Homo sapiens: one gene and its partners. The protein of the gene in region 1 purifies or fractionates together with the protein of each later gene. This does not show direct contact. Each region holds a gene or a part of one and is shown on either strand. Other genes may lie near its edges. The genes, in order: SRI, FXN, PPA2, MPI, ACBD3, TIAL1 and TKT.

Region 1 (3,500 bases):
GGAAAACTTTCCTGACTCCTGTCTGGGTTATGTGCCCATTCTATGTGATTCCACAGCCTCTCTCTTATCCCAGTGCTTTTCCCAACACCCAGGCATTGATTGTGGCTACAGAGCCAGCACCTAGCTCATAGGAAGTATTCACTAAAAATGCACTGGTATGGATGGATGGCACCAAATTCTCACCCCCACGCAGGAAGCTGTAGAGCCCTGCACTTTATATGTACAACCCTCTTAGATCGTCTAAGAAGGAATGTTTTTTGAATAAAATTTTCTAATCTTTACTAATGCTCAAAAATTAATGTATAATCTTAAATCAAAAAGCCAATAAGGCTACAGGGCTATAATTTTTCTGACACAGAAAATTTTCCATATTCATTAACTCAACAGCCACTGTTAAGTACTTATTATGTTCAGGGCTCAGGGTAACAGGAACTTTGCAGATACAGTTGTGAAACTGCATACCGTCCTAGCTGACAGTCTAAGGAAAAGATAAGTCACATACACATATAACCCTAATCATGGTAGAGTGCTGAATTATAATGGAGGGGCCAGAAAGTACCAGAAGGGATTGAGAAGTGAGAAGCTCCTTCCCAGTAAGAGAATCAAGAAAGACTTTATAGAAGACAAAGAATTTAAGCCAAGCCTTGAATGACAAGAATGATGGGGGCATTTGGTGACAGCTAAGGACCAGCATAAGCAAAGAGAGAAGTAGAAGGCCTAGGACAGGCAAAGCGTAAGTGAATAGCTCAATATGACTTTCAAAGAGTACAAAAGGAGTGGGAGAAAATATGTTTGGTCAGGGGAGGGTGCATTACAGAGGACCTTGAATTCCTTCTAAGCTGTTAGTAAAGACTGAGGAGGAGAGGGACAGATCAGGAAGATCAGGAATCTGGTCATCTTTTGTGAGAAGGATCTGAAAGGGCAGTGAGATGGCAGTGAACAAAAGTGAATGAACAAAAAATACACCATTCTAGACAGTTCCAATGAACTAGAACGCTGATGTCCAATAAGTTTTGGTAAGGAAAACTCTTTCTCAATTTTGTTAATAATATAGCTTTTATTAGTGTTAATTCTATTTTAAATAATTATTTAAAATTAATTAAAATTATAAGTATTATATATTAGTTACGTAAATGTAACTACATATAATTATAACTATAAATTATAATTAAAATTATTAATTCAACATTTTGAAATTATTTAAATTAAATAATGTTAATTTTAATAATTTCCAAAGAATCTCTGCTGTAATTTACCTTTACTCTTTTTCTTCTCTTCTGTTCATTCTACTAGAATGCCTCAAACATCTTTTCTTCTCACAGAAACATACAATATAATGGACCTAGAAGGAAAGCCCTACCTCCAGCTGTTTCTCTCAACCTTATCACAGACGAACAACTAAATTCAGGGAAAAAAGAGAAGCTGAATTACAATCTTACTGACTGGAACACAACTTCTCTCACCAACTCCACCTCTAGGTATGACTGCTTCCTTTTAAACTGGTTAAGAAGGGCCCATAGGCTCTGAGCTGGAGTATCCCACCTGCTCATCCAATTCGGACCTGTGCTTTTTGGTTTGGAAGTTGGGTTTAAAAGACTAATGGCCATATAATATCTGCATTACAAAACACTGACACCTCATAGGCAGGATGGTTCTGTGGTTCAGTACGGCCACCAGAGAGTAGGCAAATGGATTCAATCACATAGGCCCCATGATTCAGGAAATGCTTTCTCTTTAATGCATTGATCTAAGGCCATCACTAAATGTGGCTTTCTCAATGAAATTTTAAAAGGACTGCTCTCTAACAATATACAACCCATTTTGTTAGTCAGATTCTAAAATCTGCCACACCTCATCTACTGAAAGGATGTAGAATAACAGGCCATGCTGTGATCTCACTGCACTTTGATAAACCCTGCTAATAGGCAGGCCTACCTTGTTTACCAGCTCAATTGCGTAACAATTAACAATTTAAATGTACTGCCTACACAGTAAAGAATAACATCCCCTAATCCAAAAAGTGCTTATTTTGTTTAGGACTAGATTAAATAACAGGAACTTGAAAGGTTCTTCGTTTGTATTAATTCCTCTAATTAGGAAAGAGTAATAGGATACTAAAGTCACATAAAACAAAGGATAATGAAAACAAATGCAAAGAGTTCAAAGACAGCCATCTAATACATGCCATGTCAAATAGTTTTTAAAAAAAGGCCACTATAAATTCACAGCTGTGAATTCTAGTTTGAACATTTTAATCCACAGCTAACCATGAAATTGGGTCTTCAATTTGATGTTTTGTCTCAATTAACAACTGGCAAAGAAGTTGGTAATGTATTTGAACTAAGACATTATTCTCTACCCTGGAAATCTATCATGTTCAAGATCTAATTTCAAGAGGAACCACTTCATATGTGTTGGATGATGAGAAGCCCCCAGTTGGGATGCAGCAATTTTTTGGATTTTCTGAGACAGGCTGTCACCCAGGCTGGAGTGCAGTGGCACAATCTTGGCTCACTGCAACCTCCGCCTCCTGGGCTTGTATAATCCTCCCACCTCAGCCTCCTGAGTAGCTGGGACCACAGGTGCATGCCACCATGCCTGGCTAATTTTTAAATTTTTTGCAGAGACAAGGTTTCACTATGTTGCCCAGGCTAGTCTTGAACTCCCGGGCTCAAGCAATCCTCCCACCTCAGTCTCCTAAAGTGCTGGGATTACAGGTGTGAGCCACTGTGCCCTGCCAGGGATGGAGCATCTTTGCAGTATTTCATTACTCTCAGCTCATGGCAGAGTGTTCAAAAGGCAGGGGTAGGGTAAGGGCTGAATTATGGAGCAGCAGGTCCAGTAAGTAGAAAGGCCACTTCCCACTTAGCCTGAATACATTCTATGAAGTGGAAGAGGAAAGACCTGAGGGATGTCATGGCAACCACTTATGTTAGCAGGAGCATGCCCAAAGCTCAGAGACCAGGAGTGCAGGATAGGCCACTCAGGGACCAGGGGTGCAGGGCAGCAACTCAAAGCCCTAAGTGCCACCAGGTCAGGGCAGAGTAGGCTCTTGGCAAATAACAGTAAATATCAGTTCCTAATGTCAGTTAATGACCCCTGACCTGGCAGATTCCATTTCAGCACCCTACCTTGTCCTCTGTGAAGGAGGCCACCCAAACTGTCTCACTGGTTCTAGGTACACAAAACCCAAATCTGAGAAATCCACTAGATTGGCAGGTAGGATGGAATAATTTATTATTATTATTATTTTAAAGACAAGGTCTTGCTCTGTTGCTCAGGCTGGAGTGCAGTGGTACAATCATAGATTACTGCAGCCAAAAACTCTTGGCTTCAAGCGATCCTCCTGCCTGGGCCTCTGAAGTACTGGGATTACAGGTGTGAGCCACTGTGCCCAGCCTGGAGTGATTTAAAAACTGTTTTCAAATCAACATTTTGAAATAGTACTGTATTTTAGCTTTCGGAATTCTAAACTTTGCTAGATCCGACAAGCTCAGTTT
Region 2 (3,500 bases), on another chromosome or scaffold:
TGTACCCCTCACCCAAGCTAGTTTCGGAGTAAATTCACTTTTTTTGGTACCAGGCCTTGCTCTTGTTAATTGGACTCTGCATCCGGTGAACAACTAACCTGCATTTTGGTTAAATAATCATGCTGAAGTTTTTTTTTTTGGTTTTTGTTTTTTGTTTTTGAGATGAAGTCTCGCTCTGTCGCCCAGGCTGGAGTGCAGTGGCACGATCTCGGCTCACTGCAACCCCCGCCTCCCGGGTTCGAGTGATTCTCGTGCCTCAGCCTCCCGCGTAGCTGGGATTACAGGCACCCGCCACCGCACCCGATTTTTTGTATTTTTAGTAGAGACGGGGTTTCACCATGTTGGCCAGGCTGGTCTTGAACTCCTGGCCTCAAGTGATCTGCCCTCCTCAGCTTCCCAAAATGCTGGATGTGAGCCACCGCACCCAGCCCTATATTAAAGTATTTTAGGAATATTTCTTAGGATTTTTTTTTTTTTACCTTCTTTTAGTGCATTACAGTGATTCTCCCTGTGTCTCTCTAAGCCCGTGTTTTCCAATAGGCTAGCCAACAAGCCACACGTAGCTATTTACATTTAAATTTAATGAGATAAAATATAAAGTCAGCTCCTCAACTGCACCACCAGTTTCGAGAATCCTGTGGCCACATGTGGCTAGTGGTGCAGACACAGCATTTCCATCACATCAGGAAGTTCTACTGGGCAGGGCTGCTGCAGGCTGTTCAGGTTACAGGGTGGTTAGCAGGAGGCTGGGAGGCATCCACAATGCTCTTAAAAGGTCACTAAGAGAGGCAACAGGAAATAGCAAGAGGCAGAATCCTGCTGAAGTCCAGAAGATTTGGCTCTGACTGCTGACTGCTGTCTGACAGATCTTATTATCATGATCTGCAGGACAGAATGTGACCTGTTGATTTTTTTTAGTCCCTAACTGCTGGACATCCAGGTGACAGGGTCTGAGTTGATTACCACCAGCTCTGCTGACCAGCTGGGGAGATGAAGGAAATAATCAGACAAGAGCCACTGGGGCACAAGAGTGGTGCAGCTGGAGTAGGGAGATGCAGGGGAGGTGACAGGGGAGGTGATGGAGCGAGGAGGGGGCGCCCTGGGTCTTGCCAAGGACCTCAGCTGGACGTCATCCTGGGAAGGCACCGAAGGGCTTTAAGAGATTGGTGATAAGGTTTACATTCTCCAAAGGTCACTGGTTGCCATGGAGAGAAGAGGCGAGAGACTGTTAGTTACTGCTCTTGAGCCAGCAGTGCCCTTAGCAAACTCAGAAAAGAGAAGGCAGAAGGCACAGGGCTGGGAAGTAAGTGGAGGAGGAAACGGGCTGGGGGACAGTGGATGGGGAGGGTGGGGCAGAGTGCAGACCTTAGAAACACATGTCTCTGAAGAAGTGAGAGGGCAGCCATGATAACCACTGTTAGAGCTATCGCACATTCTACAGTGTTCTCCATCTGCTTGACACTGCTCTCAGCCTTTATGTAAATGGACTCAGTCTTCATTACAATCCTGTGAGGGACGTACTCTTATTACAGTCCTTATTCTTGGTAGTTATGTGCTACAAAGTTGCCACAAACACTCAACGAGCAAATTATTTATAGGAGAAATACAAGGCTAGGTACCCTGTAAGCTGCTGGTCACAACATTGTTACCAATCGATCAATATATAACCTTATTTCTGTTTAAAGACACCTTATGTAATATATATAGTTGATTCATTAACACTGATCTTGGCTGGGCATGGTAGCTCACACCTGTAATCCCCGCACTTTGGGAGGCCAAGGTGGGAGGATTACTTGAGCTCAAGAGTTTGAGACCAACCTGGGCAACATAGAGAGACCTCATTTCAACTTGAAAAATAAAAAACATGAGGCCGGGCATTGTGGTTCGTGCCTATAATCTCTGCAGTTTGGGAGGCGGAGGCGGGTGGATCACCTGAGGTCAGGAGTTCAAGACTAGCCTGGCCAACATGGTGAAACCCCGCCTCTACTAAAAACACAAAAATTAGCAAGGCGTGATGACATGTGCCTGTAATCTGTGCTACTCAGGAGGCTGAGGCAGAAGAATTGCTTGAATCCGGGAGGTGGAGGTTGCAGTGAGCCAGGATCGCACCATTGCACTCCAGCCTGGGTGATGAGCAAAATTCCACCTAAAAAAATATCAAAAACATTATCTGGGTGTGGTGGGGTGTACCTGTAGTCCCAGCTACTCAGGAGGCCGAGGTGGGAGGATTGCTTGAGCCAGAGAGGTAGAGGCTGCAGTGAGCTATGATTACACCATTGCACTCCAGCAGCCTGGGCAACAGAGGGAGACCCTGTCTCAAACAACAACAACAACAAATTAATTGATCTCAGGACAACAGCACCTTAACTCATGCCTGACAAAGCTTCTCTAACACATGCATTTTCTCTGTAAGGAACATCACAGCCTCCTCGTGCTAAACTTTGCACTACACTTGGAGACAATTTTAACAGAGAAATAACCAAGAAAAAAGCATAAAAATCTGAAAAACATGGCACTAATCAGACTGTGAAAAGGACACAGTTTACACTATGACAGCTGAAATAAGAAGGCAGGGCAGCACTTTGTTGGACCTTGGCTGGGAACATGAGCCTGGAGGAGCTCACATTTTTTTGCCGCTCTGCACACATCTTTGAAACGACCCCAAAAGGCTAGGGGTACTGATTTTGGGGTAACAAATTTTAGCAAGTGAGCAAATTAACAAGTACAGACTCTTAACGAATGAGGATCAACTATAGTTGTGTTTTACAGATGAGGAAACTGACGCACCAAAGGGTAACTTGCCTACACAGATACACAGACATTAAGTGGCAGAGCTGGGATTGAACCCAAGCTGTCTGGCCCCAGAGTCTGTGCACAGTGGAAGGAATTGTTTTCCCAGGAATTAAAGCAGTGCTCAAAACATCCAAGGAAAAGTGTCTGAGAATGTGGGGCTCACCTCAGGGAAGTTTCCATCTCTCCAGGATCCTGGCCCCTCAAACCTTAGTTGTCTTAGTCGCTGATACCTTCACAATAGCTGTTTTTGTTTGTGTGTGTGTGTGTTTAATTTAATAGAGATTTGATGGTTGTTACTGGTGGGAAGGTCAAATGCAGTTACTCCTTCAAAGGCACAAGTAGAAGTCTTTCTTCGGCTGTTTTTAATCATAAAAAAGAACCGTTGCCAAATACTCCTTGCTTTATATTCTACCTGCTTTTGCCAATTTAATATTCCTCGGGCAACTGCTAAACCTTTTGGAACCTCAGTTTACTCCTCTGAAGGAAGGGATCGTGGTACTCACAACAAACCTCACAACCGTGAGCATAAAACAAGAGAACAGAAATACCCCAAGTACAGAGCCTGAGGGTATTCAGGCTCTGAACAAAAGAATGGAGAACTAGGTGAGAGGCAAACTTCCGCCTCTGCCTAAGGGAGGCTCCATTCTGTTCTGCTTGAGGGAGGCAAAGCTTGGAGGTCAAGGTCATAGGATGAGTGTTCTTCCTTT
Region 3 (3,500 bases), on another chromosome or scaffold:
GGACATAGAATTAATTATTTCTTATCCCATCTCCTTTTCTTCCTTCTGTGATTTGCTTAGATTGCCACCAAGGAGCCAATGAATCCCATTAAACAATATGTAAAGGATGGAAAGCTACGCTATGTGGCGAATATCTTCCCTTACAAGGGTTATATATGGAATTATGGTACCCTCCCTCAGGTAACATTTTTGTTACAATGGTAAAATGTTCCTGTCTTCTGAAAAAATTGCCTTATAAATCCTGTGAACTACTGAATTTAAATTGGTTCTGAGGACATGTCATTTGGAGAGGTTTGTAAATTTGGAATTTATTAACGTGGATGGAGTTTTAGTATATCAATAAATTTTGTTTTAAACCATATATATGTCTATACTCAAGTTCTTGGAGTCAGGCATATGGAATGTTCACATTTGACATTTTGAATACATTTTTTTTTTTCTGGTCTTGCCTATTAAGTGTCAGTGAAAAACTTTTAAGCGAGGCTTTATCTACAGTCATTCCTTTGAACATGACAAGTTATGCTTTTATACACATTCATATATGATAGCACAAATTTTATATTTTAAACTTTAACAGATGAATGTGTTAAATTATTAACTTTTTCCTGGAACTCATTGTAAATTGAATTGCACAACTTATTTACTGTTATGAGTTAATAATTTTTAAGTAGAAAGCAGAGAAAACAAGAGCTAAATAATGATAAGGTAGCATTCCTGTTGGAGAATAACAACTATTTGCTTTTCTTCCTTTCTTTACCTCTTTTGGTTTTCTCTCATGTTTCCTCATTCCCAGGAAGAGGTAACTCTTCCAGATTATTTAGTGAGTAAAACTCAGAATATGCTGAATCAAAATTCTAGGTTTTGGGGACACAGAGAACCATCTGCCTTTATGTTTATAAAAACCATAGACCATCTGTCTGGAAATTTAATTTTTATATTTTTATTTATTTTAATATTTTGCATGAAATTTCAAGATGGTATTGGGGAAATATCTGAGAAGAGAGGTCTTGTTTTATCCAACATGAAAAAGCAGCTGCCCGTGTAGAATAAACATTCACAGGAAAATTTAAAAAAAAATTGTTTTCTAAAGAGTCAGGCTGTCTCTGATTCAGTTAGATCACCCACATGGATACATTCTTGGTTAAAATGGGCACTTCTAAAGTGATATGCTAAGAATGAGAATGCCTGTGGAAACCATGAAAGCAGGTTTTCTAACTCTCCAGGTACTTAAATAGGTATGCTGTTTGACCCAACAGCAAAAGGTTGAAAAAGTTCTGTAAAGCTTAGGGGATGCAGCCTGTAGGAAATGTGTGGATGAGGGTAATGCTGAAGAAGCCAATGAATTAGAGACAGACAAAAACAGAGACGTAAGTAGAGGAGCTAGAGAATAAACTAAGGTGCATGTATTTATTTCTTTAAACATTTATTAAGGATTTATGTGCTAGGCAGGATATTAGGTGTTGGGTATATAAAGACAGATGGGATATAGATGTGACATCAAGGCCTCATAATAAGTGACTGGAAAATGTGGGTTTGGGAGTGAGATTGTCACTTTCTAGTAATGTGACCTTGGGCCTTGGGAAAGATACTTTTCCTCATTTTCTTCATCTGTAAAATGGAGAACATAAAATATCTACTTCTTATCTTTGTGTTGAGATTAAATGAGTTACTGCATTTGAATAGTGTGTAACATGTAGTAATCAATTATTGTTATAATTAAGACTGGTACTTTTATTATCGTATGGTTCTTTCCCTAAAGTTGTTTTTAGTCTGATTGGGGCAATCAAGAACTAAACTGCTGGTTATGATGTGGTATAATAGGCACTACTAATTCATCTACTAATTTAAAATTATGAAAAAAATAAAAAAGCAAACCTATTGACAGGAAAGAGAGAAGGGGAGGAACGGAGGTAAAAACAAAAGAAGCTTCTGTAGTTTTCCATTTAAAGTCCTGCCAAACTTCTGTGCTCCTCTGGATGTGTCTGGATTTCCAGATGTTCTGCAGTGGTATTAATCTGGCAGGTACGGTAGTTCTTCTACTAATAAAACAGAATTAGACTGTGGTAGTCCCTTAATTCATTATTCACCCTGCATTCACCATTGCCTACCTAAGTTTCATACTCCATCCAATATCCAAATTGATATTTTTAAAACACAAATTTGCAGATGCTTTTCTTGTACAAGAACACCTTAATGGTCTCCTGTTGCTTAAAAGATAAAATACAAAATTCTTAACATTGCTACTCAACCCTGTGTGATCTGGCCTCCGCTTACTTCTCTATCCTCATTTTGCAGCATTCCCCCTTTCTCACGTCTATCCACCACAAAGTCTTCTTCAGTGTTTCTAACTTACCTCATTGTGTCCTCACCAGGCCTTCACCAAACTGTTCATTCATTCAGTACATATTTATTAAAGGCCTGTATATTTGCAAGGTGTTCTTGTAAGTACTGCAGGTAAAGCAGTGATAAAAAGTGACAGATATTTCTCTGGAGCTTTTATTTTAGTCAGATAAACAGACAATAAACAAAATAAACCCCAAGTAAAATGTCAGGTGGTGGTAAGTATGTCAAAGAAAAGTTAAGCAGGGAATGGGACTAGGGGATATTAGGATTGTTGCAATTTAGACAGGGAGACGATCTCAGTGAAAAGGTGTTATTTGAGTAAAGATCTAAAGGAAGTGAGGGAACAAGTAGTGTGGACATCTAGAGGAAGAGCAGTCCAACAAGAAACAGCAAGTATAAAGGTCCTGAGGTGGAAATAGGCCTAGCATGTGTGAGTATCAAAAAGGAAGCCAGTGTGGCTAGAATGGAAGTGAAAGAGGAAATAGACCTGCATTCTGTCTGCCATTTTCAATTAGAGATCTGTACTACTTTTTTAAACCTGACTGATCTTGGAGAGAGAGAGAGAAAAAGAGAGAGAGAGTCTGTGTGTGTGTGTGTGTGTGTGTGTGTGTGTGTGTGTGTGTGTGTGAATACACCATAAATTGCATATAAGTTAGTTATTTATCAAAGAAAATAACTAAATTGAATGATGTTTTTAAGAATGCTGAAATCATGCCAATTGCTTATGGGATAGCTTATGGAATAGCTCTACCTGATTTTTTTTTTTTTTTTTTTTCTGCTTGATGGTTGATGTTCAGACATGACCCTGTTAAAATGAAAGCCAGCCCCTGGTCCCATTTATCTTTTTAATCTCATCTCCAACTCTCCTTCTGCCTTCTGCTTCTTCACTTCCACACTGGCACTCTGGTGCTCAAAGCACACTGATGTCTCAAGCCCTCACCTTCACTGTGTCCTTTCCTGGGAACACTCCTTTCCAGGTATGCACATGGCTTCCTTAGGTTGCCTTTAACTCATCTTCTTCATAGTATCTGCCAATCATCCTTTAAAACTTTTAACCCTACTCCCATTCCCCCTCTCATACTTTATTTCCCTTTTCTATAACACCTGCCAAATTGTAACCTGCTGTATAATTTATTTATTATGTTTATTGTTAATTT
Region 4 (4,145 bases), on another chromosome or scaffold:
GGCCCAGTACGCATGCCTTCAGCATTCTGCCCAACTTACTCTTTAGAAAGGTTACAATCTCCTCAACTGGCCGGAAGCCACACAAGCCCTGGAAGGGGGTGAGGGCAATGGCCATCTCTGGCTTGTGGTTGGCATCGGGGTAGTGCTGCGGAGCCTGGAGGTGCAGCTTCTCTGCCAGCTCCTGTGGGGTGGCCAGGGGAAGAGGAGGATGGTGAGGGTACAGCCATTACCTAGCAGGTACACCAGTGCCACCTAGCCCCTGCTGTCCACCCTCCCCAGTTGCAGGATGGCAGTGACTACCTACCTCTGGCAAGGAGCCCAGTCAAAGCATGTTGCAGAAACTTGGGGCTCAGCCAACCCAGGGCAGGGGCAAATCAGGGGCAACCCCGGGGCAAATCAGGGAAAAGCTGGGGCAGACTTTAAGAGGCTTGGCCTGTGAATCAGGAAACCCAAATACCAGACCAAGCTCTGACACTAACAAGCTGTGTGGCTTTGGTAAATCCCTCCCTTCTCTGGGTCTTACTTTGTGTATCTAGAAATAAGGAGTTTTGGCTGGGCATGGTGGCTCACGCCTGTAATCCCAGCACTTTGGGAGGCTGAGGCGAGCGGATTACGAGGGCAGGAGTTCAAGACCAGCCTGGCCAACATGGTGAAACCCCATCTCTACTAAAAATACAAAAATTAGCTGGGTGTGGTGGCGCGTGCCTGTAGTCCCAGCTATTTGCGAGGCTGAAGCAGAAGAATTGCTTGAATTGGGAGGAGGAGGTTGCAGTGAGCCGAGATCGCGCCACTGCACTCCAGCCTGGGCGACAGAGCAAGACTCAAGTCTCAGAAAAAAAAAAAAAGGAGTTTTGATCCACAGTTGCTTAGGATGGGACTCCGGCTTGTGTAGGGAGACTCCATGGGGGTGGGGCTGAGGGTACCTGCCCTGCCTTGCAAGTTGAACTCTTCCTGAAAGCAGATGAGTAAATGGCAGATATGAATAGACATGGGTTGGATGAGGGAAGACCAGGAACAAGCCCCTTGGAATGAGCTTAGAGAAACTCCCCTGGCACAGGCCGGTGAGCTGTTTGCTTAGACTTAGTTGCTGCATGTGTCACTACCATCTGGCTTTGCAGAGCTAAATTGGGAGTTGTCAGCCTGGATTTGGCCTTGGGCAGGAGCCTGGCATGGGTGGGGTAAAAGTGGCAGTAAAAGTCACGGGAGGGCCTTAGCATAAGCCCTTCTGTACCCTGACCTCTGCACCGCACTCTGTCCTTTACCTTGTTAGGGTGTGCCTGGATGGACAGGGGTGTTTCAACTGAGAGCACTTTGAAGAGGAAGGGCAGGTTGCCATTAAAGGTGTCCTTGACCTTTGAGCCCAAGCTGTCCTGGTTCTCAGCAATCCACTGGCTTAGGGTCTTCTGTGAGATGCGGTTGTCAAGGATCTTGGCATCCCCTCGGGGGTGAGTCCCCATCCACAACTGGAAAGACAGGAAACTTGGGAGGGGAAGGGGGAAGAAACCTGCCACCCTGAGTTGGCCTGTCCCAATCCGTTATGCTGTGCTCCCCACAGGGCAACTGAGTCCTGGGAAAGGCCTCCCAGGTCTGGATACAAATGTTCATGCCATCATGGACATACAGGGAGGCAGTAGACCCAGGCCCTTGTCCAGACTCGGCCTCTAGCCATCTATGAAGACTTGGACTAGTTATTTCCCTTCTTTAGATGTATCTTCTTTGTCTGTCCAAAGAGGAGAATGACATCTGCACTGTCAAGGTAGCAGAAAAACTATGACTCTTAAATGATTCTTTCAGGGGTTAACATACATCTTCCAGTTTCAGAAGCAGAGGCGAAAGCCTTCCTATGCTTTGGCTTTTTCTCCACTAAATAGGCAGGAGAAATATTTTAGGTTAATAAAAATGCAAAAAAATAGTCAAAGTAAAAAAACTTAATTGTCAAAGAGGGCTGAATTAAAATTCACTAAGTGCTAAGAGTGGTTGGGGGAAGGAGAGTGCTGGAAATCCCAGCCTATTATGACAAAACCTCTCTTCTTTTTGATAACACTATCTAGTCCATTAGCCTGAAGAGCCAAGTGGGTCTCCTCCCTCCTTGCTGCCTCACCCTTCCCAGCTGATTCTTATGACTTGCCTCAGGCCCTTTCTCCTGACCTGCGGGTAAAGTGGGCTGAAATACAGCCCGGGGCTCACCTCTGCATAAGGCTTGTCCTCTGCGATCTGGGCCAGTGGATCACTGCTGGCCAACAGCCGCGCCACTTCGCTGTTGGAACCCATCTTCCCCCAGGCATACTGCTGCACCGCACAGGAAAGTGGGAATACTAGGGGCACAGACAGGGTCAGCTGCCACTCCACTCCTCAGGCCCCACCCTAGTGTCCCGGGAAACCAGGCAAGAGCTGGGGGTGCTCACTGGGGACAGAGTCAAATAAGGGTTTTGTAGGCTGTTGGATGAGACCCCCCTCCGCTGCAGGCCTCGATGTTCCCAACTGTCAGATGGGCAGCAGTAAGGACCTTGTGCTGATCTGAGGCAGGGTGGCGGGGAGGGAGCAGAAGGTACCTATCCCACGGCACGACGTCTAGAAGGGCCCCCTCCCCTCGGAGGTCAATCCCCATCGCAGGTGGCCACACCTCTGCCCGGCACCCACCCATCTTTCCGCGGAATGCCAGGAGCGGACTCAACCTGGCCGATAATGCCGGGAGTCGTCCCCAGGACGCGCTCCACGAACACACTCGCCGACACCCCAGCCAATGGCTCACCTCGCGGAGCGGCCATGCTCGCCCCCTGCACCAGGATTAAGCACGTATGCCTTTCCCGGCAGCCCCCGCGGCCCTCTGCGCCCAGAGCTTCACGGGAAATGTAGTTCCCTGAGCGTTCCGCCAGGCCCCGGGGCACCCGTGCCCAGAGGCTTACGGCCGCGATCTTCGGTCTCACTATTCATTCATTCTTTCCATCGCCGGGCACAGATGTACTGAAAACCTGCTAAGTACCACGGACTGTTCTAAGGGCTGGAGGATACATCAGAGAGCAAGATAGCCTTCCCTCTGCCTTTGTAGAGCGCTTACATTCTGGTGAAGGCAAGACAGACAAGTATTGTAAGCAAATCATGTAGTATGTTGAAAGGTCAAGGCCACAAAAAGTAAGGGGGCAGGTGGCAGTGGGAGGCAGTTTGCAGAATATAAAAGGCTGTCTGGGCAAGCCTCTTGAGGAGGTGAGGTTTGAGTCCAGACTTGGCGGTGAGGAAGGCAGGAGTGTTCTGCGGGGAGGAAACAGCCACAGCGGAAGCCAGAGCAAGGCGGGAATGTGGGACTGTGCCGGGCGTGTTGGGGAGGGAACTGCTAGCAAGGAGGCCACTGTGGCTGGAGCAGAGTGAGTAAGACAGGGGCAGTGAGGAGGTCAGAGAAGAGAGGAGGGGGGCAGAGCTTTGCAGGCTATTGCTATTGTGAAGACTTTGGGTTTTACTTCGAGTCTCAGCAATTACAGATTTGAGCAAAGAATTGCTGTGATGTGAGTAGGGACATACTAGTGATGATGATGGTAAATGTCACATGCAAGGCCCTTCACTGCTCTGAGCTTTGTAGAATGGGGTGAATAATGCCAGCCTGACATGCTTGTTGGAGGGTCAGATGGGATGACGTGAGACACCTATAAGGCAGTCAGCTCCCTGTGCTCCTCTGATCCTTCCCGTCCCAGGTGCTGTAGAAAGTCAGAACCCCAACTTCTACTCCAGGCTGAGCTGCTTACAAGTTGCACACACAGAAGTCAGGGGAATTACGAAGAGCTGTGCATAGGGAAGGATGGCCTTGGGCCTTGGCTCTGCAGTAATCTTGGCTATATCCTGTGGTGAAAGGCTTTGACATCCAGACCTTCTCAGTCAACAGCCTCCTAGGAGGAGGACAGTCAGTGGCTCAGGCCTGTAATCCTAGCACCTTAGGAGGCAGAGGCAGAAGGATTGCTTGAGGCTAGGAGCACAACAGTCAAAGCTCCGGGGAACCTGGAATGAGGAGTTACAGTCCTGACTCTACCCTCATCACCCCTGCAATACCCTCATTCCCACAGCCTCTACCATATGTGCCCAGGGGAAAGAGCGGGTGCCGTTTTCCCTGTAATCCTCTGCCCAGGTGTGGGTATCTATCTCACCTCCCCTGGGGT
Region 5 (3,500 bases), on another chromosome or scaffold:
ATTGCCTAGCATATACTAACTGCTTAGTAAAAGTTTTAAGACTTCCCCTCCATTAACTCAAAACATCCATAATCAATTCTCAGAAGTACCTCCTTTTCAACAACATAAGCAGCCACAAAAATACCAATAGCCAGGCATTCTGCTAAGAGTTTATATATATAATTTCTTATAATTCCTAAAACAACCCTTTGAGTACAGGAAAGCACAAAAAGTTAACAAAATTAAGTGGCAGAGCAAGGAAAACACACCCTAAAGAGTGTTGACTCCAGAGCTTACCTTTCTAAATACTGATTCACAGTAGCTCTTGTATTAGTTAACTGATAAAACATCTGCTCCTGGGCATTGGCTACACTGTCCACTTTCTGAAAACTCATCAAGCTACACACTTAGTATTTGTGTACTTTAGTGCACTGCATGTGTGATAAAGGGAAGCCTCGGGAAAATGTTAAAATCACTTACATTAAAAACATATACACACTGGGCACAGTGGCTCACGCCTGTAATTCTAGCACTTTGGGAGGCCAAGGCAGGTGGATTACCTGAGGTCAGGAGCTCGAGACCAGCCTGACTAACATGGTGAAACCCTGTCTGTACTAAAAATACAAAAATTAGCTGGGCGTAGTGGCATGTGCCTGTAATCCCAGCTACTCGGGAGGCTGAGGCAGGAGAATTGCTTGAACCCAGGAGGCAGAGGCTGCAGTGAGCTGAGATCGCGCCATTGCACTCCAGCCTCGGTGACAGAATGAGACTCCATCTCAAAAAAAAAAAAAAAAACAATGACAACAACAACACATACACATTCCTGAATCCAGTCAAAGGAAAGTTTTGGTTCAGCTCAAATTTAACATGAACTTGGTGGCTATAATTGTTTTTCTGTCTTACATCTGTCTCTCTTAGGTCTATATATCCTCCTACAGTATTACATACTTATGTCTAAAGGTAAAGATAATAAAAGGGAAAAAGAACTCTAATAGATGTTCCATAGTAACAAACTTGAAATTATCTGAGGATAGACCACTGAAGTCCAGGAGGCACACTAATTATATATGTTTCCAATGAATAAATTACAGCTGTACAGTATTTTAAAACATTAAGGAAGCCATTTATAAATGCTCTTGTAGTTGCCTATGTTTAAAGAAGACAAGAGGAAATGGAACCATTTCAGTTGTCCATTTGTTTGCTATCATTAATATAATTCTCTCCCAACATATAATACTCTACTATCAGTAACACAATTGGGTATAATCAATAGCAATGCTAGTAGAACTATTCCATAAAGAAAATGAGTCCAAGACTTACCTTCCAAATAACTGAGGGGCCTGAGGCAGGATCCTTAACTCAGAAATGGGATTAATACCCTTACAGAAGGCCTCTTGGAGGATTAAACAAAATAATGTACATACAGTTTTTGGCATAGTACCTGAGATTTAGTAAACATCTACTCAATAACTATTGACAATTATTACTCTGAAATCTTAAATTAATGTAAACAATCTACCAGCTTAATGTAATACAGTAATAAAGTATTAGAGAAGGAAAAGTCCACCCCAAAGAACTCTAAAAACCAAAATACAATTCCCCAGGTCAACTCCATCCAAGAAGTATAAAGGTCATAATAAAATGAACCCACTGGATTCCTGTGGGTCCTTAACCCATGGAGATAAGAAAACCTAGCTTAACATTGTTAAAATAGAACTGGGCAACTCTGGCCGGGCGTGGTAGCTCATGCCTGTAATCCCAGCACTTTGAGAGGCCAAGGCGGGTGAATCGCTTGAGCTCAGGAGCTAAAGACCAGCTGGGCAACAAAGCAAGACCTCTGTCTCTACAAAAAATACAAAAATTAGCCGGGCATGGTGGCTCGTGCCTGTGGTCCCAGTCACACAGGAGGATGAGGTGGGAGGATGGCTTGAGCCTGGGAGGCATAGGGGGCAGTGAGCCAAGATCGCACTACTGCCCTCTAGCCTGCATAACAAAACCAGACTGTCTAAAAAAAAAAAAAGAATTGAGCAACTTTGCTCCTCCCTTTAAAAACCTCCAGTGGTTCCTCATCTTCTAATTTACTGACAAAAAGGCCGAACTATTAATACTTACATGGCCAGGCGCGGTGGTTCACGCCTGTAATCCCAGCGCTTTGGAAGGCCGAGGCGGGGAGATCATTTGGGGTCAGTCCAAGACCAGACTGGCCAACATGGTGAAACCCCATCTCTATTAATAATACAAAAATTAGCTGGGTGTGGTGGCACAAGCCTGTAAGCTCAGCTACTCACGAGGCTGAGGCAGGAGAATCACATGAACCCAGGAGGCAGAGGTTGCAGGGAGTGGAGATCATGCCACTGCATTCCAGCCTGGGTGACATAGCAAGACTCCGTCTCAGAAAAAAAAAATGACAATGGCATGCAAGTCCTTCCAAGAATTGAACTCAGTTACCTTCCCAGCTCTCTCCATCAAACTGCTTTCTATTTTCCATTTTGCAAACAGACATGCTTTGACTTCTCATGGCTTTCATGGCTCTTGGCCTTCCCCCCTCTGGAATGGCATCTGCTCCCTCAGTCCTCCACACTGTACTGCAGTTGTCACTGGGTCCTTAACTCCTCTTTTGGACTCTAAGCAAAAGATAACGTACTATTCATTTATAGTTGTAACCTAATATAAAACTATCCATACTGAAAAGTCAATAATGTCTGAAATTTAGATGGTAAAATGCTAACTTACATTTACCCACATCTTCATCTATTTTACTTTTACTGTCATAAAAAATTAAGAATAGTTGACGTAATTGATTCAGTCACTGGCCTATTACCACCCTGACAAGGATGGAATAAGAAATAGGGCTTGTCATTTCCAACCCAAGCTATTTGCAATGGAAAAATATATCCATGCTTTCAAGATTCGTATTTATTCCACAGTGGAAGAGAAAATGTAATGTTCTTTCCTTTATTTATTTATTTTTTTGAGATGGAGTCTTGCTCTGTTGCCCAGGCTGGAGGGCAGGGACGAAATCTTGGCTCACTGCAAGCTCCGCCTTGAGGGTTCAAGTGATTCTCCTGCCTCAGCCTCCCAAGTAGCTGGGACTATAGGCGCCTGCCACCACGCCCAGCTAATTTTTTTATTTTTTTATTTTTAGTACAGATGAGGTTTCACCGTGTTAGCCAGGGTGGTCTCGATCTCCTGACCTTGTGATCCACCCGCCTCGGCCTCCCAAAGTGCTGGGATTACAGGCAAAAGCTACCACACCCGGCCGAAAATGTAATGTTATTTCTAATTCTCGTGAGATACTGGTATAAAACCATAGAATAGCGATTAAAAGTCCCAGCAAGACTGACAAAACACCATGTGTTCCACCAGAAAAATCCACACATTAAAACAAAGGTGCCGGGCACGGTGGCTCACGCCTATAATCCCAACACTTTGGGAGGCCAAGGTGGGCAGATCACCTGAGGTCGGCAGTTCGAGACCAGCATGGAGAAACCCCGTCTCTACTAGAAATACAAAAGTACCTG
Region 6 (3,500 bases), on another chromosome or scaffold:
ATTAAATTAGTATTAAGTTCTTTTTTAAAAGTCCTGGTTGAACTAAGATTGTAGGCAGACATTACTGTCACATGTGGTGCAGTCTGTTGACTTTTATATATTTTTTAAAACCTTCAAATGTAAAATCTTGAGATAAAAGCAAATGTTTAACAATTGGGATTTTTATTAGAGTTTAATACAAATAATGCATAGTTTTTCTAAGTGTACGTTTTACATATTCTCAAAGGGTTCTATTAGATATAAGTAACATGATGAAAACTGAACATGATTTTAGACGTTGATATCTAGTAGGGTTTTTTGTTTATGGAGATCTTATATTTTACATTGTGAGCTATGGATTAGGTTTTTCAAGTGGCCAGTATGTTTTAAAAGAATGTGTTCTTAACAAAGCTTATCTTAAATTGTTTCCTTAAGATGCCTGTGTGTTACTAGTGAGGTTTTTTTCCTGCAGACACACACAAGCTAAGACATATGGTTCTATCTTCAGAAAACAATATGGTGTTTAGAGCCTAGGTAGGTCTTTAAATATTCATTACCTACAGTATTACTAATTTATTTGATGGTATTTAAAGTGGCAAGAATTGCTTTGATGTTGAGCCTAAATTTCTATTTGTCATATAGTTGCTTTAAAGGTCTGTTTTCTGATGTTCTTCATTCTCATTTGACATTTATTTTGGGGTATTATGCATTGAGTAACTTGTGATCTAAAAAAACAAACAAGATCATGCTGTGTAATACTGGTGTTGGAACTGGACTGTCTGACACCTGCCTTGTGGGACACACATTTCAGGCTTGGGTTGTGTGTATCTTTGTAGTGCAGTGATTTGATCCATGGTATATCTGAATCTACAATATGACACTAAATTGTAATAGTGTTTTATTGTAGCTTATTTTATTTTCTTCATCTATCGGATGCACCAAAATTGCTAGGAATTCGTGTAATACCATGTTACACAATCCCTTCCTTTAAGGCTATTCTTTCTTCCTGGAAATAAGCTAATGATTTAGAGTATAATCTGAACATCTAAGAACAAAGCAGAAGAAAATTCTATAAACTATTACAAAATTGACTGGCTATACCATGGATTTGGCTATACTGTGGCTATAATCAAGCCCCTCATTCAAATTCAACTTAATCATATTCTTTGTTTCTTTAAAGTAAGAGAGAGAGAGTGAGTGTGTGTGTGTGTGTGTGTGTGTGAGAATATCTCATATATATAGTTGGTCAATTTAGTTGTACCTCCTGCAGCTATCTTCCATCATGCCTCCTTCCTAAAATGAAATACTGTACCGACAAATTGAACAATTAATTAGAGATCTATTGAAGGATATTATTGCAAAATCTCTTCTTGTATAGGACTTGTCAAGAACAAAAGCAAAACTATTATGGAAATTTAGCTATAGTTTTTTGTGTGAAAGTGCTGATAATTTCAGCCTTGGTAGGGCTACTCTTTTCAGAGTGAGAGCACATTCAGTGTTGAAAAAGTGTCATTAGTCTTCTGAAAGGCATGATATTCTTAACTTAAAATTCTGCCCAGTCGGACACAGGAAGTAGTTTGGCAATGTGAATTTCTGCCTACTGTGAAACTGCTAAGTTTTTAGCCCCAAATTGGATTTTAACCCTGATATTAGAGATAAAGGTGTCATTTTCAGTTTTTAATGCTTCAGTTCCTACAGTTCCTGTTCTTAGAAGACAAAATAGACTCTAAGGTATGCCTCTTCTGAATTTTTTCGTTGAGTTAAAAATCATTTTGGAATTTCCTAAGTGTTTACTCTTTGAATTGACCTCTCAATACAAAAATTAGAGCCATTTATCTTTTTTCTGTTATTTTGTGTATGTTCTTTAGGTAGCAATTATATATTTAAAGACTTGGATCTTTAGCTTGACTATTTCATAACCAGAGCAGAAAGAAAGTGAAGTGTAGAAGCTATAATTTGGAACGAATAAAGATGTCATTTCAATGAACTACCAAGAGATGATCTTACTAGGTCAGGCATTGAACTTTGTCTTAAATATTTTTGTTAGTATTTACTTTGGGACAGATTATTTTATGATACTGTAAAAGTACTTAAAATAGAATAGTACAGTATTTTAAAAGCTATACAATACGTCTCTCAAGTGTTATGATGCACGAAGGCAAATGTAAATGAAGAGGCAATCTGAAATTTGGGTACAAGAACTCAGTAAAAGAAAAGGCAGTCTGAAATTTGGGTAAAGTTTAGGTGAAATTATATAGTGAATCATGGCCTTTTAATCCTGGTAAATTAAGATATTGTATGTGTTGTTATGGAAGGCCTTTCATGTTAGTTTTTGAAATTTAGTTTGCTGCTTAACATTTAACTTTTAGTGGAGATAATTTGAAAAATAGGAAACCTTAATACTGGATTTTTAAATAAATATTTCATGACATTCTAAACTTAGATATTAACGTTTTCATCTTTGCTTTCAGTGCTAGAAATGTAAATTAATATATCTAAATATGCCTCTAGAAATTCTTCAAGATCTGTAACTGGCGGGAAATAGGTTGACTTAGAATAAAGATTTTTTTTTTTTTTTCAGATGGAGTTTCGCTCTTGTTGCCCAGGCTGGAGTGCCATGGCGCGATCTCAGCCCACTGCAACCTCCACCTCCCGGGTTCAAGTGATTCTCCTGCCTCAGCCTCCCCCAAGTAGCTGGGATTACAGGTGCCCGCCACCATGCCTGGCTAATTTTTTGTGTTTTTAGTAGAGACGGGGTTTCACCATGTTGGCCAGGCTGGTCTTGAACTCCTGACCTCAAGTGATCCACCTGCCTCGGCTTCCCAGAGTGTTAGGATTACAGGTGTGAGCCACCACACCTGGTGGAATAAAGATCTTATTAAGCAGTGACGGCTTTTTTTGTGACTATTAGATATAGAAGGTAACTAATTCCAATACAGTTTTTCCTGAAGAAATTGATGTTTAAACAGTAATGGAAATTTAAAACTATTTAAATCATTTAAAATGTGTTATATTAAAATGATAATTCTATTTTAATTTTGTTATTAGCTAGCTTCAATATGTGAAAACCAGTTTTATCCATCCTTCTTTTCTCTTAGAAGTGAGCTAACTAGCCCTTTAGGCAAGGAGCATAATGTTTAGAAGCTCAAGATCACTTGTTCGTTTCTTTCTTTCTTTCTTTCTTTCTTTCTTTCTTTCTTTCTTTCTTTCTTTCTTTCTTTCTCTCTTTCTCTCTGTCTCTCTCTCTTTCTCTCTTTCTTTTTTATTTATTTTTTTGAGATGGAGTCTCACTCTGTCGCCCAGGTTGGAGTGCAATGGTGCAATCTCGGCTCACTGCAACCTCTGCCTCCCAGGTTCAAGCGATTCTCCTGCCTCGGCCTCCCGAGTAGCTGGGATTATAGGTGCGCGCCACCATGCCCGGCTAATTTTTGTATTTTTTGTGGAGACAGGGTTTCACCATGTTGGTCAGGCTGGTCTCAAACTCCTGACCTCATGATCCGCCTGCCATAGCCTCCCAAAGT
Region 7 (3,500 bases), on another chromosome or scaffold:
TCTGGGAGGCTGAGGTGGGTGGATCAACTGAGGTCAGGAGTTCGAGACCAACCTGGCCAACATGGTGAAACCCTGTATCTACTACAAATACAAAAATTAGCTGGGCATGGTGGCAGGCACCCGTAATCCCAGCTACTTGGGAAGCTGAGGCAGGAGAACCACTTGAACCCAGGAGGCTGAGGTTGCAGTGAATCAAGATCGTGCCATTGTACTCTAGACTCGGTGACAGAGTGAGACTCCATCTCAGGAAAAAAACAACAACAACAACAAAAAAAAGGAAACACAAACAGGGCTGCCCCGCATTGTTTGCAATTGCAAGACCTGGAACTCACTTATATGTTTATCAATAGACGAGGTTAACTGGAATATATTAATATAATGGGATACTATACAGCAGTAAGAATGAGCGAGCTACACTTCACAAATCCGGTATCAATATTCTCTCCCAAATATAGTGTGAAAAAAGCACAGTGCAGAAGGATCTGTTTAACAAAGAAGACCATATTGATTTATGTACAAGTCTTTTTGTATATACTACAAGGAAAACAGGCCAGGTGCGGTGGCTCAAGCCTGTAATCCCAGCACTTTGGGAGGCCGAGGAGGGCAGATCACCTGAGGTCATGAGTTTGAGACCAGCTTGACCAACACGGATAAACCCCATCTCTACTAAAAATACAAAATTAGCCGGGCATGTGGCACATGCCTGTAATCCCAGCTACTCGGGAGGCTGAGACAGGAGAATCGTTTGAACCCGGGAGGCGGAGGTTGAAGTGAGCCGAGATGGCGCCATTGCACTCCAGCCTGGACAACAAGAGCAAAACTCCGTCTCAAAAAAAAAAAAAAGGAAAACAATAGAATGATAACAAACAAAAAATTCAGGGTATAGTTCTTTCTCAGGGGAAGGGAAGATGAGGATGGAGGGACCCACTGTAGTTCCAAAAATCACTGTAATGTACTAGTTCTTAATCCTGGGAGCAGCTACACACAGGTTCATTATTTATGACAAGAGTACATCATTTATCTTCTTCTTTATGCATATACTTTTTTTTTTTTAAATATTCAGGTGGCTCACGCCTATAATCCCAGCACTTTGGGAGACAGAGACAGGTGGATCACCTGAGGTCAGGAGTCTGAGACCAGCTTGGCCAACAAGGTGAAACCCCGTCTCTACTAAAAATACAATAATTAGTTGGGCATGGTGGTGGGTGCCTGTAATCCCAGCTACTTGGGAGACTGAGGCAGGAGAATCGCTTGAACCTGGGAGGCAGAGGTTGCAGTGAGCTGAGATCTCACCATTGCACTCCAGCCTGGGAGACAAGAGTGAAACTCAGCCTCAAAAAAAAAAAAAAAAAAAAATTTAGAAGAGGCCAGGGGCGGTGGCTCACCTGAGGCACCTGAGGTCAGGAGTTCAAGACCGGCCTGGCCAACATGGCAAAACCCCGCCTCTACTAAAAACACAAAAATTAGCTGGGCATGGTGGTGCGGGCCACTAGTCCCAGCTACTTTACATGGGAGGCTAAGGCAGGAGAATTGCTTGAACCTGGGAGGCAGAGGCTGCAGTGAGCCGAGATCGCACCACTGCACTCCAGCCTAGGCAACAGACTCCACCTCAAAAAAAAAAAAAAAAAAAAAAAATACTCAGGAGAGAATCCCAGGATGTCAGGGTGGAAATGAACATCAGAAGCAGTTCTTGCTCTTCCTGTGCCCTGAACTACCCGAGCTGGCTTCTGCCCGGAAAGAACCTCTGGCTCCAGACCTCAGGTTGTTTCTTCAGATCTCTGCCCCATGTCACCTCTTCCAAGAAGCCCTCCCTGACCACACTGTCTAAAATAGCTCTTCTTCCCCTCACTCATGCTTGCCACCTGACATTAGGTGGTTATTGCCTGTCTACCCTACTGCAATACAAGCTCCTTGAGGACAGAGCTTTGGGCCTTTCACTGTTGTATCCACAGGCTTGAATAGTACCAGGCACAAACTGAGTGCACAAATGAATACATGATGTATCCTAGTAACCTTGGGGCTGTAACCTCTTTGAGCCTCAGTTTCCTCACTATAAAACGGAGGTAAAAGAAGAATCTGACTAAATGATGTAGTGTGTATGTACAGAACGTGGCACCATGCATAGAAATTAGCAATTGCTCAGTAAATATTAGACTATGCTTCATTCGGAGGATGGGGCCACTAAGGTTCACAGAAAGTGACTTGCCTAAAGTCACACGGCCTGCCAGCAGCAGAGCTAGGATAAGAGCAAAATGCTAAGAAAAACTGGTGAATGGATAAACAAAATGCACTATGTCCACACAACGGAATATTCAGCCGTAAAAAGAAATGAAGGGCTGGGCGTGGTGGCTCATGCCTGTTAATTCCAGCACTTTGAGAGGCCAAGGCAGGAAGAGGACTTGAGCCCAGAATTTGAGACCAGGCTCAGCAACATACCCTGTCTCTACAAATAATTTTTAAAATTAGCTGTGTATGGTGGTGAGTGCCTCCCAGCTACTTAGGAGGCTGAGCTGGGAAGACTGCTTGATCCCGGGAGGTTGAGGCTGCAGTGTGCCATGACTGTGCCATTGCACTCCAGCTTCGGGACACAGTGGAGACCCTGCCCCCCACCCCCCAAAAAAAAGGAACAAAGTACTGATTCATGTTACAACATGGATGACCCTCTAAAAATTATGCTAAGAGGCCAGACCCAAAAGAACTCATTCTGTATAATTGCATTTATATGAAATGTCTAGAAGAGTTAAATTTAGAGACAGAAAATTAGATTAGTGGTTGCCCAGGACTGGGGGTGGAAATGGGGAGTGACAGCAAATGTCCAGAAGAGATCTTTTAGGAGATGTGGTAAATTTTTGTAGTAAATCTCTGCAAATTCATTAAAATCACTTACAATGTTATGATACGCCAATTATACCTTAATCAAGCTGCTAGAAATTTGTTTTTATTTTTATTTATTTATTTATTTGAGACAAGTTCTCACTCTGTCACCCAGGCTGGAGTGCAGTGGTACAATCTTGGCTCACTGCAACCTCCGCCTCCCGGGTTCAAGCGATTCTCATGCCTCAGCCTCCCGAGTAGCTGGGGTTACAGGTGCCTGCTACCATGCCCGACTCATTTTTTTTGTATTTTTTAGTAGAGACAGGGTTTCACCATGTTGGCTGGGCTGTCTCGAACTCCTGACCTCAAATGATCCACCCACCTTGGCCTCCCAAAGTGCTGGGATTACAGGTGTGAGCTATCACACCTGGCCTAAAAATTTGTTTTTAAAAGAAAAAGGGCCTGGAGCAGTGGCTCACGCCTGTAATCCCAACACTTTGGGAGGCCAAGGCTGGCGGGAGGATCACCTGAGGTCAGGAATTCAAGACCAGCCTGGCCAACATGGTGAAACCCCATCCCTACTGAAAATGCAAAAATTAGCTGGGCAGTGGTGGCATGCACCTGTAATCCCAGCTACTTGGGAGACTGAGGCAGAAAATCGCTTGAACCTAGGATGTGGAGGTTAC

What was found.
Region 2: the proteins of SRI (region 1) and FXN fractionate together in Homo sapiens (co-fractionation; one large-scale study listed by BioGRID). This does not show direct contact.
Region 3: the proteins of SRI (region 1) and PPA2 fractionate together in Homo sapiens (co-fractionation; one large-scale study listed by BioGRID). This does not show direct contact.
Region 4: the proteins of SRI (region 1) and MPI fractionate together in Homo sapiens (co-fractionation; one large-scale study listed by BioGRID). This does not show direct contact.
Region 5: the proteins of SRI (region 1) and ACBD3 purify together in Homo sapiens (pull-down; one large-scale study listed by IntAct). This does not show direct contact.
Region 6: the proteins of SRI (region 1) and TIAL1 fractionate together in Homo sapiens (co-fractionation; one large-scale study listed by BioGRID). This does not show direct contact.
Region 7: the proteins of SRI (region 1) and TKT fractionate together in Homo sapiens (co-fractionation; one large-scale study listed by BioGRID). This does not show direct contact.

Annotation. Positions count from the first base shown.
Region 1 is NC_000007.14:88,213,539-88,217,038, forward strand, and holds part of SRI (sorcin), read right to left. Parts: intron 3,220-3,500; exon of another isoform or gene 3,122-3,219; intron 3,047-3,121; exon of another isoform or gene 2,905-3,046; intron 1,399-2,904; exon of another isoform or gene 1,038-1,398; intron 1-1,037. UniProt on the Homo sapiens protein: Calcium-binding protein that modulates excitation-contraction coupling in the heart. Contributes to calcium homeostasis in the heart sarcoplasmic reticulum. Modulates the activity of RYR2 calcium channels.
Region 2 is NC_000009.12:69,042,252-69,045,751, reverse strand, and holds part of FXN (frataxin, mitochondrial isoform 1 preproprotein), read right to left. Parts: intron 1-3,500.
Region 3 is NC_000004.12:105,443,063-105,446,562, reverse strand, and holds part of PPA2 (inorganic pyrophosphatase 2, mitochondrial isoform 1 precursor), read left to right. Parts: intron 1-60; coding exon 61-180; intron 181-3,500.
Region 4 is NC_000015.10:74,888,697-74,892,841, reverse strand, and holds the start of MPI (mannose-6-phosphate isomerase), read right to left. Parts: upstream 2,801-4,145; 5' UTR 2,769-2,800; coding exon 2,753-2,768; exon of another isoform or gene 2,645-2,752; coding exon of another isoform or gene 2,641-2,644; intron 2,405-2,640; exon of another isoform or gene 2,316-2,404; coding exon 2,188-2,315; intron 1,464-2,187; coding exon 1,263-1,463; intron 182-1,262; coding exon 40-181; intron 1-39. UniProt on the Homo sapiens protein: Isomerase that catalyzes the interconversion of fructose-6-P and mannose-6-P and has a critical role in the supply of D-mannose derivatives required for many eukaryotic glycosylation reactions.
Region 5 is NC_000001.11:226,180,242-226,183,741, forward strand, and holds part of ACBD3 (Golgi resident protein GCP60), read right to left. Parts: intron 1-3,500. UniProt on the Homo sapiens protein: Involved in the maintenance of Golgi structure by interacting with giantin, affecting protein transport between the endoplasmic reticulum and Golgi. Involved in hormone-induced steroid biosynthesis in testicular Leydig cells.
Region 6 is NC_000010.11:119,590,465-119,593,964, reverse strand, and holds part of TIAL1 (nucleolysin TIAR), read left to right. Parts: intron 1-445; exon of another isoform or gene 446-513; intron 514-1,847; exon of another isoform or gene 1,848-1,989; intron 1,990-3,500. UniProt on the Homo sapiens protein: RNA-binding protein involved in alternative pre-RNA splicing and in cytoplasmic stress granules formation. Shows a preference for uridine-rich RNAs.
Region 7 is NC_000003.12:53,246,023-53,249,522, forward strand, and holds part of TKT (transketolase), read right to left. Parts: intron 1-3,500. UniProt on the Homo sapiens protein: Catalyzes the transfer of a two-carbon ketol group from a ketose donor to an aldose acceptor, via a covalent intermediate with the cofactor thiamine pyrophosphate.